Regions from separate parts of the Homo sapiens genome. Here region 2 is linked to region 1. The links come from fine-mapping of genetic effects on gene expression. Tissue or cell type: whole blood. Region 1 holds a variant in brackets; the other region holds the start of a gene. All regions are shown on one strand. Distances are between the middles of the regions.

Region 1 (8,091 bases):
AGCTGCTCCCGGTTCCTCTCCTGGGACCACGTGTTTGTTTAGGAGCAGACACACACTCCTCCCCAAACCAGAAAACCTCGCGGAAGCCCTGGAGAGGCCACCTCTGTCCTCCGAGGCCACAGCGGCTGCCTGGTGCGTGAGCTCTATGGGAACCCAGCCCTGTTGGAAGGTCACTGTTCCGAGGAGACACCTAGGGAACGTCACCTACGTCCTTGCTGGATTCAACAAGGGGCGTGGACCCCACAGACCTGTAGCAACGCACCGGGATCAGCACGGAGGCCCTCACAGTCGGCACTCAAAACAGAGCAGCATCCACAGGCAGGACACCTGGGACTCCACCACCCCGGGTATGCCATGTGGACACCCACACAGCCTCTGGTTGCTTCAGTCCTGATCTCCAACACGGGGTGACGAGACTGCTCCCCTTTTAGAAGTGTGTGTGTGTGTGTGTGTGTGTGCGCGCGTGCAAGTGAGCATGTGTGTGAGCCAGCATGGGTGCCCATGCCCATATGTGTAAGACACCATCACTGCTGTTCCCAGGAACATACCGGTTGGCCCAGGACACCTGAGCCTGCACTTTCCCCACTCTGCTCTCATTCAGACCCTCCCACCCCCAACTCAATACACACATCTTTCAAAACCGCCATTCTACTCCACCCATGGTAAAGAAGCCAGCCCATGTTGCAGAAACTGTGCCTGCCAAAGTAAACGTGGAGAGTGGCACTATGGCCTCCTGAGGGCCTCATGGCCCTGAGGAAGGGGGTGGACATCAGAGCAGAGGCGTGGGGAGAGCTTTTCTTATTTCCGCCTGTGCCTCTTGATTTCCAACAGGTGCTCACACGGCCTATTCCAAGAGAACTTTAGAGAGGTCTGGGGCAGCAGCACCTGCCAGGCCTTCAGTGCCCTCTGCTCCACAGGCCACCAGACACAGCCTTGTGGTACAGGTGCCCGCTCCCCTGGTGGGATGGATGGCTTTGCTGTGTTCCTGACACCTGACACTGTTTGGGGACAGGGCGGTTGAGAAGAGGTTTCGGCTACAGCAGCACGGCTGCCTTGTAAAACCTAAGCAGAGGATGTGGAGACCTGGGAACCCTCTTTCCTCCTCCTATCAGAGGGTTTTGGGAGAGACGAGTAGACACGGTGGGGACAGGAAGAGGGGCGGTGCCAGGCCCAGGTGGCCGTGCAGGAAGGGCCTTCACTCACCACGCAGTGTCACTGAGCACAGTCACCACCTCGTCCAGCACATCCGCGCCCACGACGTCACTGTAGGTGAGCAATGTCTCGTACACCTGGCTGGCCGTGGTCTTCCGGATCTGGGACAGGGATGCAGTGCATTTGCCGGAGGGAAGCGCCACCGCCCCACCCCGGAGAGACGACAGGACCCAGGCCAGGGAGCCCCGTCAGTGGAAGGCGTCAGGAGGAGGACGCTGACCCTGCATCCCATCCCAGCCACAGCAGGGCTGCAACCAAGAGGAGGTGCCTTCCAGGCCCATTAACCACCTCCTCCCTCCACAGACACACAGCTAGCTGCAGGATCCCAGCAGTGAAGATGACATCATTCTTGTTTAAATGCTTTATTAACCAACCTGCTCCCTCACCAGAGAAGCAATCTCGCCTGCTCTCTATTAACTAACCTGCTCCCTCACCAGAGAAGCAATCTCGCCTGCTATTAACCAACCTGCTCCCTCACCAGAGAAGCAATCTCGCCTGCTCTCTTTTCATCAGAGAAGCACTCTCACCTGCTCTCTATTAACCAACCTGCTACCTCACCAGAGAAGCAATCTCGCCCGCTATCTATTAACCAACCTGCTCCCTCACCAGAGAAGCAATCTCACCTGCTCTCTTTTCACCAGGGAAGCAATCTCGCCTGCTCTCTTTTCATCAGGGAAGCAATCTCGCCTGCTCTCTTTTCATCAGGGAAGCAATCTCGCCTGCTCTCTTTTTGAGTGGTGCCCTGGTCATCATGTCTCACTGCGCTGGTGGTCTGAGCCCCGGGCCCACCCTGGAGGTGCTGAGTCGGCAGCACAGGGCCCAAGAGCTGCACTGCTGAAGCCCCAGAGGTGCCAAGCCTGAGGGTCCGGCACCCCACTTCGAGAACCACCATACAACATGAAGTTACTTTTGCCTTTTAGGAAAATGTCACCTTTGTATCATCTGAGGTTTTTTTTGCAGCCAGGAGAAAAGAAATCCTAGAAATCTAATAGCCGGGGAGTGCTGGGGATGAAGGGCACTGCCCCTAGGTGTGGCTGAACCACTTCAGCCTGGGTCCTTCTGGAAGCTCCTGAGCCAGATCCCACCGCCAGGTCACCCCTCAATGTATGTCCATAGAAACGCCAGCCGGACAGCCCGTCCTTAAAGCCAGAACAGTGGCGTCCAGAGCCCCTTGGCAGCCGCGTGCCTGTGACGCGTCGTCACCCAGGCGCGTTAACGAGAGGGGCTCGGCTGGAAAGCACACCAACACAACAGTGCCAGCGAAGGCCTTCTTGTCACTGAGGGGCTTGTGTCCACACGGCAAACACACGTGAGCAGGGGCAGGCACTCACCAGCGGGAAACGGTGGCAGAGGAGCAGACACAGCTGCAGGAGGGCCTGCCTCCTCACGTCGCCGGGGAACTGCACCATCTCGCAGAACCTGCCGGGAGCAGCACATGGCTCCAGGTGAGCCCCACCCCGCGCAGGCCAACCCCAGCAAACCCCGGACCCAAAGGCCCATGCAGAGACCTGGGCAGAGCAGATCCGTGAGCACAGTGCGGGCCTGGGGCCCCAAGCCGGAGGTGTGTGTGTGCGTACATCTGCACTGTGCCTACACACACGAGTGTCGCACTTGGAAAGTCACTGTGGGAAGTGAGGACGCCTCACAGAGGATCTCCTGCAGGGCCGCTCGCCCTGCCATGAGGACCCCCACCTCAAGGAGCCACAGAGCAGCCAAGGTGCCTATCGCTGGCTGGCGCACCTGCCCAGTGTCCACCTGAGCGCCGCAGAGCAAGGCACTCAACAGCGACCCCCAGGGCACACAGGAGAATCGGGGAGGCAGCCCCTGACCACGCAGCTCCTTTCCGGAGCCTCCCCTCCCGCCAGGGCAGAGCGCGAGGGCAGCAGAGGCAGAGCTCGCCTGTTCCCGCGGGAACTCCCTCCACCAGCACCTGGGCTGCCTCACCTCCCATTGCGACTGCTTTGAACATTGGAATGCACGATCTTAGGTTAGCTTGAGGAGTAACACTAACTGCTCCTCTCCCGCCTGGAGCCGTGGACTCCTGCCCTCAGCCAAGGGAGGCTGCGCCCTGCCATTCCGTCTAAGGCCAGCAGCACTTGAAACTCACACTGCGATGCCTGACAGGAGCTTCTGGATATCTTTTGAATTCTTGATTTCTTTCTTACAGAGCGCAAGCAACTTCACAGCAAAGGGGTGGCTGGAAGAACAACACACACTTTAGAGATGAGCTTTCACAGGCAGCCCCGGGATGCACACTTTTTCTGTCTCAAAGAAGGTCAACTCCGTCCTCCCAGTGGCTCAGTCCAAGAAGCCTGCAGCCCTGAGGCCCCTCTGCCAGCAAGTCCGCTGGTCCCCATCCCAATACCTCCACAGGCCGGCCTGGTCCCTAGCGGCTGTGCCACCACCTGGCCGGCCTCTGCTGTCTCTTGCTCTCTTGCCTGTGGTGCAGCAGCCCCCACGGGGCCCCACCTCCCTTTCCAGGCCCCAGGGTCTGTCCCCAACACAGCGGCGGCCAGGATGCCCGTGCTCCTCCACCACTCCCTCCAGAGGCTACCTGGCCTGGGCTGCTGCAGAGCCGGGGGAAACTGCCGACACACAGAGGACACACAAGGCTGTGCAGTGTTGTTTTGAGCCTTCAGTGGCAGCAGGGACAAGGGCTGAGGCTTGGTGCTGACAAAGGCACAGCCCTGATGAGCAGCTCT[G/C]AGAGGGCACCTGGAAGGCCACTCCAGGGAGGAGAAGGTGCGCACCTCCCTCTCTCAGTGGGGAATGCAGCCAAGCTCCAGCCACCCAACAGGCCAGGAAACCCTCACTGCTGACCGTGAGTCAAGGAGACCCCAGGCTGCTGCTACCCTCTCCTCAGGTGCCCAGAAAAGGCAAACTAAGGTCCTGCCTGCCAAAGCACAGGCTTAGCCCAGACCTCGGCTTGCTCTGAGGTGCGACCCCTCAAACGCAACGTCCCGAGAGAACACAATACCAGACAAGTAAGAAGACAAAGAAACCCGCTCAGGTTGCAACTCAGACACACCCAGCCAAACAGGCAGGAAAAGAGCATTCAAGAGGATGAACACCGGGCACGGAAGGAAGGGCCGCAGGGAACGGCGAAGCGGAAAGCGCTACAAGCAGACGTGGAAACACGCGAGACAAAAAACCTACACCTGAAAAGACGCAAAACTCCACAATAAGAATTCCACAAATCACAGTTAAAAGTCATTTAGAGACATCTTCAGAGAGAATCAGCAGCTGGCAGGCGGGCCAAAGGTAATGAAGCAAAGAGAGAGGGAAAAGACGTGTGAAAATTGCAGAGGGGGTGACCGAGGGAAACACGTGAGCGTGATAATGACAGAAAAACCAGGGAAGGAGCAAACCTGGGCAGGGGGTGGGAAACCCGGGCCGTTTCCAGGGAGCACAGGCAGACTCAGAGGTAACACTCAAAAGCAACAACAGAAGCAAGGAGGAAGTGGGAAAATATTTTTAATGTGCTACAACGAAACAGCTGCCTGAATTCTATATACCCTCTGAAAATAATCTGCACATAAAATGGGAAAGCTTCACCGCAGCAGACCCCACTCGAGGAAATCCAAGGGAGTGTGCTCTAGGGAGAGGGAATGTGAACCCCGATGGGGGGGGTCCCAAAAGCAGTAAGTGATGAGAGACAAAGAAAGTAAAAACGTGGAAAATTCAAAGTAACGCAAATTACACATACCACAATGAACAGGAAAGTACGTACATCTAAGACAAAATATCCGACAATAGCAGCACATAACTCAAGACGGAAGCACGCGGAACCAACACGTTCTAATATCCTTGCTATTGTCCAATAAGGACAAAATGCTGAAAACTGGACTTCGCTAAGAATACGTGGTGTCATTTCTAATTTCTAGGGTAAGCGTTAACAGAAAAAAGTAAAATGTCCCAAACAAATATATGAAAACAATGGAATGACAAAAGCAATTCTACTAATCCAACAAAAAGCACAGGTGGGGGCGGGGAGGGGGCACTGGGAACGCAGCACAGGGAAAAGTCCTGTGAGTGGCAGGCTGAGAACCAAGGGGATTATAAAGGTCATGAAGGAGGCAGGTAAAAGCTACAGGCTGAATTTTTACAAAACCATACACTGTTCTAAGAGAGGCGTACAAAAACATACATGTATGAAGATACTGAAAGTAAAACGATGGAAAAAAGTATACAGTTCAAAGTCAAGTGAAGCAAGACAAAGAATGAGTGGAGCAAAAAGCATCCTAGAAATGGGTGATAAGGGCAAGATTCAGCCCACAAACACGCTTCAAAATCTGAAAAGCCAAAACTGACAAAACTGTAGAGAGAAATACAAAGCTGTATTCATAGCAGGACATGGCAGGAGGTATTTTCTCTACCATCCTATCTTGGAAAAAAAATTTTTTTTTTGAAACAGAGTCTGGCTGTGTTGCCCAGGCTGGAGCACAGTGGCTCAATCTCAGCTCACGGCAACCTTCGCCTCCCAGGCCCAAGCCGTACAGGCACCACCACACCCGGCTAATGTTTTTGTATTTTTTGTAGAGATGGGGTTTCACCAAGTTGGCCAGGCTGGTCTCAAACTCCGGAGCTCAAGTGATCCACTCGCCTTGGCCTCCCAAAGTGCTGGGATTACAGGCGTGAGCCATGGCGCCCAGGCTTATTTTGAAATTTTTAAGCCAGAAAAATATATGTCAATATTTTAGGCCAGGTACGGTGGCTCACGCCTATAATCCCAGCACTTTGGGAGGCAGAAGTGGGCAGATCACCTCAGGTCGGGAGTTCGAGACCAGCCTGACCAACATGGTGAAACCCCATCTCTACTAAAAATACAAAATTACCTGGGCATGGTAGCACATGCCTGTAATCCCAGCTACTAGGGAGGCTGAGGCAGGAGAATCACTTGAACCCAGGAGGCAGAGGTTGCAGTGAGCTGAGATCGCACCAATTCACTCCAGTCTGGGCAACAACAGCAAAACTCCATCTCAAAAAAAAAATTTAAATGGAGTATTTAGCATTGTATTAAAGGATAATACGCCACAACCGAGCTGGGTGCACCTGTGAACATGGAGGCTGTTCCAACAGCAGGTGTAAGAAGGTCAGTCAGTGATGCCCCATTAAGAAATTAAAAGGGGAAACCCTTCAATGCTGTTAGATTTAAAAACATGTGCAGCGTCCAGCAAAGATGGAGCAACAGAGACCAGATCTGCCTCCCGCCCGAAGGTTAAGGCAGAGCCAAGTCCAGCAGGTGGCAGACTCCAGCGGGAAGCCCGTGGTGAGAAGCGGGAAATTCCAAGTCTGCAGAGCTCGCTCAGGTTCTGAGCACCAGAGGGGGCTTCCTGGGGGCCGCTGAGGACTAACCTGGGCCTGGGTCAGCCAGTACCTGAGTACGAGGACGCTGTCCAAGGCTGGGGACGAACCACCCAAAAGATGGCCAGAAGCCCCGGCACTGCCCCAGCAGCGGTGGGAAGGGAAGCGCCAGGGAGCAGAGACCTTAAAGGGGCAGAAAACCCTGGAGACCAGCACAGCTCTGGGTCCACCTGACAGCTTAAGAGTAGCGCCCAAGCCAGGCTCAGTGGCTCACGCCTGTAATCCCAGCACTTTGGGAGGCCGAGGTGGGCAGGTCACTTGAGGTCAGGAGTTCGAGACCAGCCTGACCAATGTGGTGAAACCCTGTATCTACTAACAATACAAACAATCAGCCAGGTGTGATGGTGCACAGCTGTAATCTCAGCTACTCAGAAGTCTGCGAGAGAACTGCTTGAACCCGGGACGGGGTTGCGGTGAGCTGAAATCGAGCCACTGCACTACACCCTGGGCAACAGAGCAAGACTCCATCTCAAAACAAACAAAAAAAAAGCAGTGCCCCCAAAAACAGACCACGCTGTCTCCGGATGACCCAACGTGCCCCAGATACAAATATATCCAGGCCAGACGCAGTGGCTCACACCTGTAATCCTAGCACTTTAGGAGGCCAAGGCAGGCACTTGGGGCCAGGAGTTCAAGACCAGCCTGGGAAACATAGTGAAATCCTGTCTCTACTAAAAATACAAACATTAGCCGTACATTAGACTACAGCGCATGCCTGTAGTCCCAGATACTTGGGAGGCTGAGGTAGAGGCTGCAGTGAGCTGTGATTGTGCCACTGCACTCCAGCCTGGGAAACAGAGCTAGACCCTGTCTCAAAAAAAAAAAAAAAAAAAGACTGGCCCAACACGGTGAAATTCAATGAAGCAAGAAAATATGGCAGCAACGAGATGACCACTCAGAGCCAACAACCCAGCTGAGACCAGCCTGGGGCATCCGCGTGGCGCAGAAGCAAGGAGCTCCAATCTCCTGGGCAAGTCCTCGCCAGGTCACCGGCCTCTGCCCTCTCCCCTGCGAGTCTCATCCCCGTACAGCCGAGGCCCCTTCAGGCCCTGCGGCTCCCAGCACAACCCTGAGGCCCACCCCTGGCCCGGTGGGATAGCTGGGGGGAGAGTGCACAGCAGGGCCCCCGCCTCAGCCCCAGATGGGGCTGACTGCACTTACAGTCATAATATGTCATTATGTAAATATGTTATTATTGCGTTATTTTGAGGGCCAGCTGTGATGACGGTATTTACAGTCACCATAACTGACCCAGAACGCACTGGAAGATCATTTCCTGGAATTCTGATCTCTGTGTCTGATGACTTTTTCTTTAATACATGAGCTACTTAGGCTTAATCGGAAAGGAAGTCATGAAAAGCAGAGCCTCACTCCTCCTCCGTGGTGAAGATGTCGAAGCAGCCGTGGGTGAGCACGTGGTCCAGCGTCTTCAGCAGCGGCACGGACACCCTGAGGGGAGAAGGAGCTGTGAGACCCTGGACACCAGCAACAAGGACGCCCAACTCCCTGAATGGCTGA
Region 2 (8,085 bases), 180 kb after region 1:
CCGTCTCAAAAAAAAGAAAAAAAAACAAAAAAAACACATGAGGAGCAGATGTTGTTTCCTTAGCAGAAAGGAATTAAGTAGCTCAGACACATCTCCCCCCAGCCTAGAGTGACATCTGGAACTCAAGCCACTATCACAGGTCGGCTAAAACCAACCAGCCAGGCAAGCAAGACAGGGACACTTCTTGGCATTTGATCCTGGCAAAGCACATGCATGTGCCAGCACCACACACCAAGGCCTCCGTGGTCATCTGTAACTGAATGATCAAAATCAGCAGCTTCTATTCTTACCAAGGTGCGGGTCCAACAGATGAGGCTGCTCCTGGTATTTGTCCATTATTACTAAAAACAAATATAACATGAAAATTAATTATCACTAGGCCAAACATACCCATGAGCCTCAGAAACCCCATTTTCCCTTGCTAGCTTCCACAGGGCAGCTCCACCTCTTCCCCAGCTCTCAAGAGCACACCTCCCCTCTCACTAAAGGAGGCCACACAGGCCACCTGGAGGGAATGCCCCACCTCCCTCTAGCCTTTTGAGGGCCACTGTGGCCCAGCCTCGTGCAGTTTACTTGCTTGGCACACTGTTCCTCTTTTCCCACTGCCTCGATACTCTTCCTAACAGAGTCTCCTCCTCGCCTCTTCCTTCCTTCACTCTCTCCTGCCTCTGCCAGCCGTTAAGGGCCAAGCTCAACTCTGTCCTTGTGAGACACACATCCCTGGCACTCCTCTCACACTCCCCTGCCAAACATGCCTGTAAACTAAAAACAAAATTCTAAGCCCCCTAGCCATCTAACAGACCCCTCCTCTTGGCCAAGGGCATTCCAAACTTAACCTGAAAAACTAGTTCAGGCCTCATGATATTAAGGGATTGTGGGGAGTGGTCCACATAGGCCTCATTATACCCTCCTCTCGTTGGAATTCAGGCACAGCTGATCAGTATTAGCATTAAAACCGATCTTAAGTAGCAATAAGACACCAAATTCCAGCCTGACTCTAGTACAGCATCACATGACAGACAGCAGGCCCTGAAAGAAATCAAAATATTTTTCCCTAAAATATATTTGACATATTTTGAAATGGTTCTGCTAAGTTGTCTCTTGCTGGGAAAAGCTACATTCTGTAGAGAATCCCTTCCTTTTCTAGGTCTTTTCCCTGATCCAAGAGAAAATTAACTAAGTCTGGTACCTTTTTAGTCTGATGAAAAGCATTTACAATCTATTCTCTCTGAAACCAGCTAACTGGAACCTTCATCTGCATAAGAAAAACCTTGGTCTCCACAATTTATCTTAACCTAGACAATCCCTTCTATGGATTCCAGGTCTTCAGATAAACTCTTTCAACCAATCACCAATCGTGAAATATTTGAATCCACCAATGCCCTGGACGCCCTCCCACCCAAGATGTCCCGCCTTCCCTGACGAGACCAATGTACATCTTACAGGTATTGATTGATGTCTCACGTCTCCCTAAAACGTGTAAAACTAAGCTGTAGCCCGACTTCCTTGGGGACATGTGACCTCCTGAGGCTGCCTCACGGGCACACCCTTAACCTTCTAAACTGATTGAGACTCGTCTCAGATACTTTTTGGTTGACATATCCAGGCACTGCTCCCTTCCACACAGCTGCCAGCTCTTCACAACCTCCCAGACCCTGAACCACCGCTTTCTCCTCCTCTCAGCAGCTGAAACTGCTTCTGTCCAATCCGGCAGCTCCCACCTCCACATCTGAACACACCCACTGCTTCCCAGCAAAACTGCCTTTGCAAAAGTGATCTGTGAGGAAATTATGGCAATGGGGCAGATCTGATCCAGGCAACCCCCTCATGCCTTTAGTCTTCAAGCTGCCAAGCTACCTCTGGGAGACATTTAATTTATAGTTTAAATGCTAAGAGCCCTTCCCCAAAACTCAACTGCCTTTGTAAAGTTAATGAGAGGCCACCAGGCTAGGAGGAGGAGAGGAGCCTGAATTCCGCTAAGGCGTAACCTAATTGCCAGCCATTATTCTTGAGATCACAAGACATGCGAGTTCCCCAGTTACTCCTGCAGACCATGTCACTATTGCAGAACCTGAGACTGGCCTTTAAAGATATCTTTTCAGATTGTTTCCATGTCTGACACCTACACTAGGATCCACGGACCCATGATAGCTCCACCTGGACCCGCCCACTGCTCCTGGGGCCCCACGCAGACGCGATTCAGCACATCACGGAGGATCATTTCCGACTCCCCTATGATTGTATACCCCTAACCAATCAGCCACCCCCACCCTTTCCCCCAGATTACCTCTAAAAAACCCTGGCCCTCAAATTCTCAGGGAGACTGATCTGAGTAATAATAAAACTCCAGCCGGGCGTGGTGGCTCACTTTGGGAGGCTGAGGCGGGTGGATCACGAGGTCAGGAGATCGAGACCATCCTGGCTAACACGATGAAACCCGTCACTACTAATAATACGAAAAATTAGGTGGGCGTGGTGGCGCGCACCTGTAGTCCCAGCTACTCGGGAGGCTGAGGCAGGAGAATCACTTGAACCTGGGAGGTGGAGGTTGTGGAGGTTGCAGTGAGCTGAGATCTCATCACTGCACTCCACCCTGGGGGACAAAGTGAGACTCCGCCTCAAAAAAAAAAAAAAAAACCTCTAGTCTAGTCTCCCTTTCAACCGGCTCTGCGTGAACTAAATCTTCTCCATGGCAACTCCCCTGCCCTGACAAATCAACTCTATCTGGGCAGCCCGCAGAAAGAACCCACTGGGGCCGAGCGCAGTGGCTCACACCTGTAATCTCAACACTTTGGGAGGCTGAGTCGGGCGACCACTTGAGGTCAGGAGTTTGAGACCAGCCTGACCAACATGGTGAAACCCCCTCTACTAAAAATACAAAATTAGCCGGGCGTGGTGGCGCGCGCCTGTAGCCCCAGCTACTCGGGAGGCTAAGACAGGAGAATAGCTTGAACCTGAGAGGTTGAGGTTGCAGTGAGCCAAGATCGCACCACTGCACTGCACTCCAGCCTGGGCAACAGAGCAAGACTTCGTATCAAAAAAAAAAAAAAAAAAAAAAGGAAGAAGCCATTGGGCTGTTACACCAGGAACAAAAAATCTGGCTTCACTGGTCCCTGGATGAGGGTCCCTCACCCTCAGAACAGTTCTGCACGAGAGGCATCGTTATCCGCCCCAGCTTACACCCGAAGAAACAGGCAATCAAGTATCAGGTCCAAGCGACAGGGCCAGAATTCACAGGCAGGAGGATCTGACGCCGAACCCGCACTCCTCCCACAAGGCCCCCCACCCTGCCTGACTCCTAAAATCAAAGCGCTGTCATTCTAAAATGAGGAAGGCCAAATAATGCAAAAGTTCTTCTTACTCAAAGGGTCTACAAAGATGATTTTACTGAATTACAAAACCCCATGTAACTACTTAGCTATGAGCTCCTAAGGACTTGTTTGGAAATAACCCATTATAGACAGCGGTAAAGGTGGGTCTGAACTCGGAGAATTTAGACTCATCGAATGGCCTCCACAGGGGTACCTACACCCCACCCCGCCTGCAGAGGCACGGACCCGGCCAGCCCGCTCTGTCCACGGCGTCCACGGAACGGACAGGCTGCTGCCCTCCCCACCCGAGGCGCGCTTTGTTTGCAGCAGGTTTGTTCCCTGCGTCCCCCTCTCTCATTCCCTATCTCCCTGTCCACACAACATTCACAGAAACCGCGCTCGGTGGAGGCAAGCCTGGGAGTCCACACTGCAGGGCTGACCAGCTGTCCGGAGGGGTCTGGCCCGAGTCTCCCCAGCCCAGGGACCTCCTCCAGTGACGGAGACGGGGGACGGAGGGCTTCTGCACCCCGCCTCCCGGGGAGGCCGCAGAGGCTTCACCCCGTGCGAGAGCAGGCGCTCCGCGGGCCACGGTCCCCCCAAGGGAGGCGCGCGTCTGCCCCGTGCACCTAACGCCGCGCCGGGGTGGCCCTCTCCCGCCTAGGAAGGCCGCGCCCCACCACGGCCCGCGGGACCGCGCACCGGCAGCCCTCGCAGAGCGGCCGGCGCCGCCGGGCTGCGGTCCCCGCCCGGTAAAGTGCACTCAGCGCGCCGAACCCGGGCCGGGGGAGGAAGCGGGCACGCGGCGCCGCCCACGCACCGCGGAACCGCTCCAGGGCCACCTCGCGCTCCGCGCCGCCGCCGTGCACCTCCCGCAGGCGGCCCAGCAGCGCCCGGGTCTCCGCGCTCTCGCCGAACGCTTCCAGCGCCGCGCCAAAGGCCAGTGTCTCGTCCTCCGCCTCCTCCTCGGGGCCGCCCGCGGCCGGTTCGTCGCTCAGGGCCATCTCGGCAGCCTGGGGACCGCGCCCCCGCCTCACGTGTTCGCAGATCCCACTCCGCTAGAGCGCGAAAGCCAGGGATGAAGGATGAGGGATGAAAAGGAGGCGCCCGCTAAGGCGGCAACCGACGCTGGCCCCGCCCCGCGACCTCCGACCCCACTCGCCGGCCTCGCTACGGAACGCGTCGGCCGCCAAAATACCGCGCGCGGGACGGCGCGTGCACTTGAGGACGCGAGCGGGCACGGGTCCCAAAGGCTCTGGAAGAGCGCGCCGTGGACCCCACAGGGCGCGAGCGGAGCCGGGACCGCTCAGCGGGGCCTGAGCACGCGGTGGGCGGGGCAGGACAGGAGGTGGGGCCTGAGACGCGGTGGGCCGGGCTGCGGGGTGAGGCCGCCGCCGGAGGACAGCGGGGCGGAGCCTGAGCAGGCGGTGTGCGGGGGGGCGGGGCTTCGGGATGGGGCCGGGGGCCGCCAGGGCGGGGCTTGAGCACGCGATAGGGGGCGGGGCTGCGCGCAACGGGGGCGGGGCCCGGGCACGCGTGGGTGGGAGGGGCAGGGCTTGCGGTGGGGCCGGAGACAGCGGGGCGGAGCCACAACACGCCGGGGGGCGGGGCGGGGGCGGGGCGGGGGCGGGTGGGACCGGGGGACCGCGGAGCGGGGCGGAGCCTCAGCATGCGTGGACGGGGAGGGGCGGGGCCTGAGCACGCAGTCGGGGGCGCGAGGCGAGCCCCGGGACCCACCCCTCAGAGCCAACCGCCCTGACACTTATTCGCGCCACGCTGGGACCCGCGCGGATCACACGGGCCCCGCGCCGAGTGGTGGCGCGCCCCAGAGCGGGAGCGGGAGCGGGGCCCGGAGGCCGCGGTGGGCGCTGCGCCGACTTTGGCCTTGGCTACCGGGTCCGCGTGCGTTTCCCCTGAATCGCCGCAAAAACGTCCGTGCACAGCTCGCCGTGCGTCTGGCCCTGAAAGCAGCCCCACGAGCGGAGGAACGAGGCGCAGGACGCCAGCCGAGACCCGCTGCGGGCTTTATTGGTCCCCAGGATCTGGGAGGGGTCGGGGGAAGGGGGACAGGGACAGGGGGGACGGGGACGGGGGACGGGGACGGGGGGACGGCGATGGGAGACGGGGATGGAGGATGGGGACGGGGGAACGGAGACGGGGACGGGGCAGGGGGGACGGGGACGGAGATGGGGGACGGGGATGGGGGGTCGGGGACAGGGGGATTGGTATGTGGACAGGGGGACAGGGGGACGGGGGACAGGGATGGAGGGACGGGGACGGGGGGACGGGGACAGGAGGATGGGGGGACGGGGGGATGGAGACGGAGGGACGGGGAGACGGGAACAGGGGGACAGGGACGGGGGCACAGGGACGGGGGACGGGGGGACAGGGACGGGGAGACGGAGACGGGGACGGGGACAGGGGAAGGGAGGGCAGGGGCCGCTACTTGAGCAGCCTTCGCATGGTGCCCAAGGAAGGGCTCCTGTACTCCCGCCCGAAGTGGTTCCAGTGGTTCAGGTAGTTAAACAGCTGGTAGAGCAGCAGCCGCTGGTCGAAGCCCGGAGCCTTGGGGATCTTCCGGTGGTAGGCGGTGAAGAAGGATCTGGGGAACCCCCCAAACATCAAGGCGATTGCCAGTTCAAACTCGGAATGGCCATAGAAGGAAGCCGGGTCGTAAATAATGGGCCCCACGTCGTCCTCAGCCACGTTTCCCGACCAGAGATCCCCGTGGAGCAACGCGGGGACAATCTCTAGGCCACAAAACAGATCCGGGATCTTCACCTACGAGAGCAACGGCTGCAGTTATCGCTGGCCTCTGGGAGCCCCGGTCTCATCACCTCGTTCTTGGAAATAAGGCAAAGCCCACTCGCGATCTGCTTCGGTGTCCAGCCCCAGCACTGCCTGCCAAGCCCAGAAATAGGGGCCACCTGACTTCAGGGGAGTCTAGCTTTGTCTAACTTAGGATTTCCTCCTAATTTAGGTCTAGAATCCCCACACAGTGGAGAACCTCTGAGGTTATAGTTTTAATCGACCCACAGAATAGGAACCAGTGTTGCGCTACCTTAGCAAACTCTGGCCACTTTTATTTCGCTACACATATATGTCTGCAGGTTTTGTTTGGTTTTGTTGTTTTTTTCTTTGAGAGGGAATCTTGCTCTGTCACCCAGGCTGGAGTGCAGTGGCGCCATCTCGGCTCACTGCAACCTCCGCCTCCCGGATTCAAGTGATTCTCCTGCCTCAGCCTACTGAGTAGCTGGGATTACAGGCACCCGCCACTACACCCGGCTAATTTTTGTATTTTTAGTAGAGATGGGGTTTCACCATATTGGCCAGTCTGGTCTTGAAATCCTGACCTCAGGTAAAATCTATCCACCTCGGCCTCCCAAAGTGCTAGGATTACAGGCTTGAGCCACCGTGCCCAGCCTAGTTTCTTCATTAATGAGTTCAAGTCTCTTTGATGTATACTCACTCTGGATTGACATGCACATTCTTTTTTAACATTTTGAGAGTTATATTTTGATTTTTTTTCTTTTTGATACAGGATCTCACTCTGTCGTCCAGGCTGGAGTGCAATGGTGCAATCTCCCCTCACTGCAGCCTCCGCCTCCCGGGTTCAAGTGATTCTCCTGCCTCAGCCTCCTGAGTAGCTGGGATTACAGGCATGCACCACCATGCACGGTTAATTTTTGCATTTTTAGTACAGACAGGGTTTCACCATGTTGGCCAGGCTGGTCTCAAACTCCTGACCTCAAGTGATCTGCCCACCTAGGCCTCCCAAATGCTGCGATTACAGGCGTGAACCACTGTGCCCGGCCGAGAGTTATGTTTTGAAATCAGTCATTCTGGATCATCTGGTACCCACATCTTCCCATGGGAGAGGAACACGATGGAGTGGACAAGTGTTACTGATAGTAAGAACAGTAATCATGGTAAACACCACCATTTACAAGCACCTGTGTTTCACATGAGGAAAGTCTGAGGCTAAATACCTGGTGACCTAGCAGTGGAGAGGGGCACGAGGAGCCAAGTGTGTCTTCACTCCTCACTCCTTTCGGACTCCCTTTTGGGGGAACCCCCGCCCCTGCCCCCCTTCCTCCCTGATGTGTGCTCCAGGACTCAGTGTTCCCTGCTCCAGCTCCGTTTTACAGATGAACCCGCACAAATGCGGCGGGATCATGAGAGGACCAGCTCTTTCCCAGAGAAGTCACTGCCGTGCCCACCTGTAGCCGGGACCAGAGTTCTCGTGCCTCTCGGTCAGCATAGTCCTTCTCAATGAGGTCCAGCTGCGCCTGGAGCCGGTGCCGGGCGAAAAAGGTCGGCCAGTCATCCTGCCACTCATTCACCTGGACAACAAGGGAAAAGAGGCCACTGTTGCAATTCGGAGCCAAGTGCTGCCTAAACCCTAGAGGGACCATTCAAAACCCAGCAAAGATACCTAGTAAGCCAACAAAGGAGGTAAGACAGAAACATAAAATACTCAACCCAGAGGAAGGCAGGTAAAGAGAGAACAAAGGGCAGATGAAACAAAAAACAAATTGCAAGATGACAGACTCAAAACTATATGACTAAGCACATTAAATACGAATGTCAAAAATAAATACTCTTGGTAAATGACAGATTGGCAGGTTGGAAAAATAAAGCAAATCCAACAATAAGTTATGTGCAAAAAGACATTATCTACTAAAAAAAAAAAAAGCTTGAAAGGATAGAAAAGATATACCATGCTAACACTAGTCAAAAGAAAGCTGGAGGCCAGGCACAGTGGCTCACGCCTGCA

What was found. PIP is the estimated chance that this variant, and not a neighbour inherited with it, causes the effect.
Region 2: it holds the start of TBCD, and the variant in region 1 is fine-mapped to the expression of TBCD in whole blood (INTERVAL, PIP above 0.99).

The regions. Positions count from the first base shown.
Region 1 is chr17:82,932,589-82,940,679 of GRCh38, reverse strand. It overlaps TBCD (tubulin folding cofactor D), which reads right to left. Exons shown (of 39, transcript NM_005993.5): 34 at 7,945-8,022; 35 at 3,320-3,409; 36 at 2,544-2,631; 37 at 1,204-1,313. Among named protein-coding and RNA genes, the nearest start is that of ZNF750, 97 kb to the right of the region's middle. The variant G/C (reference allele first, on the strand shown) is at 3,915.
Region 2 is chr17:82,748,421-82,756,505 of GRCh38, reverse strand. It overlaps TBCD (tubulin folding cofactor D), which reads right to left and starts at 4,441. Exons shown (of 39, transcript NM_005993.5): 1 at 4,129-4,441; 2 at 291-341. The coding sequence starts at 4,312. It overlaps FN3K (fructosamine 3 kinase), which reads right to left. Exons shown (of 6, transcript NM_022158.4): 5 at 7,529-7,651; 6 at 5,310-6,089. The coding sequence ends at 5,751. RefSeq lists an enhancer at 1,239-1,533 and silencers at 3,880-4,199, 4,890-5,249.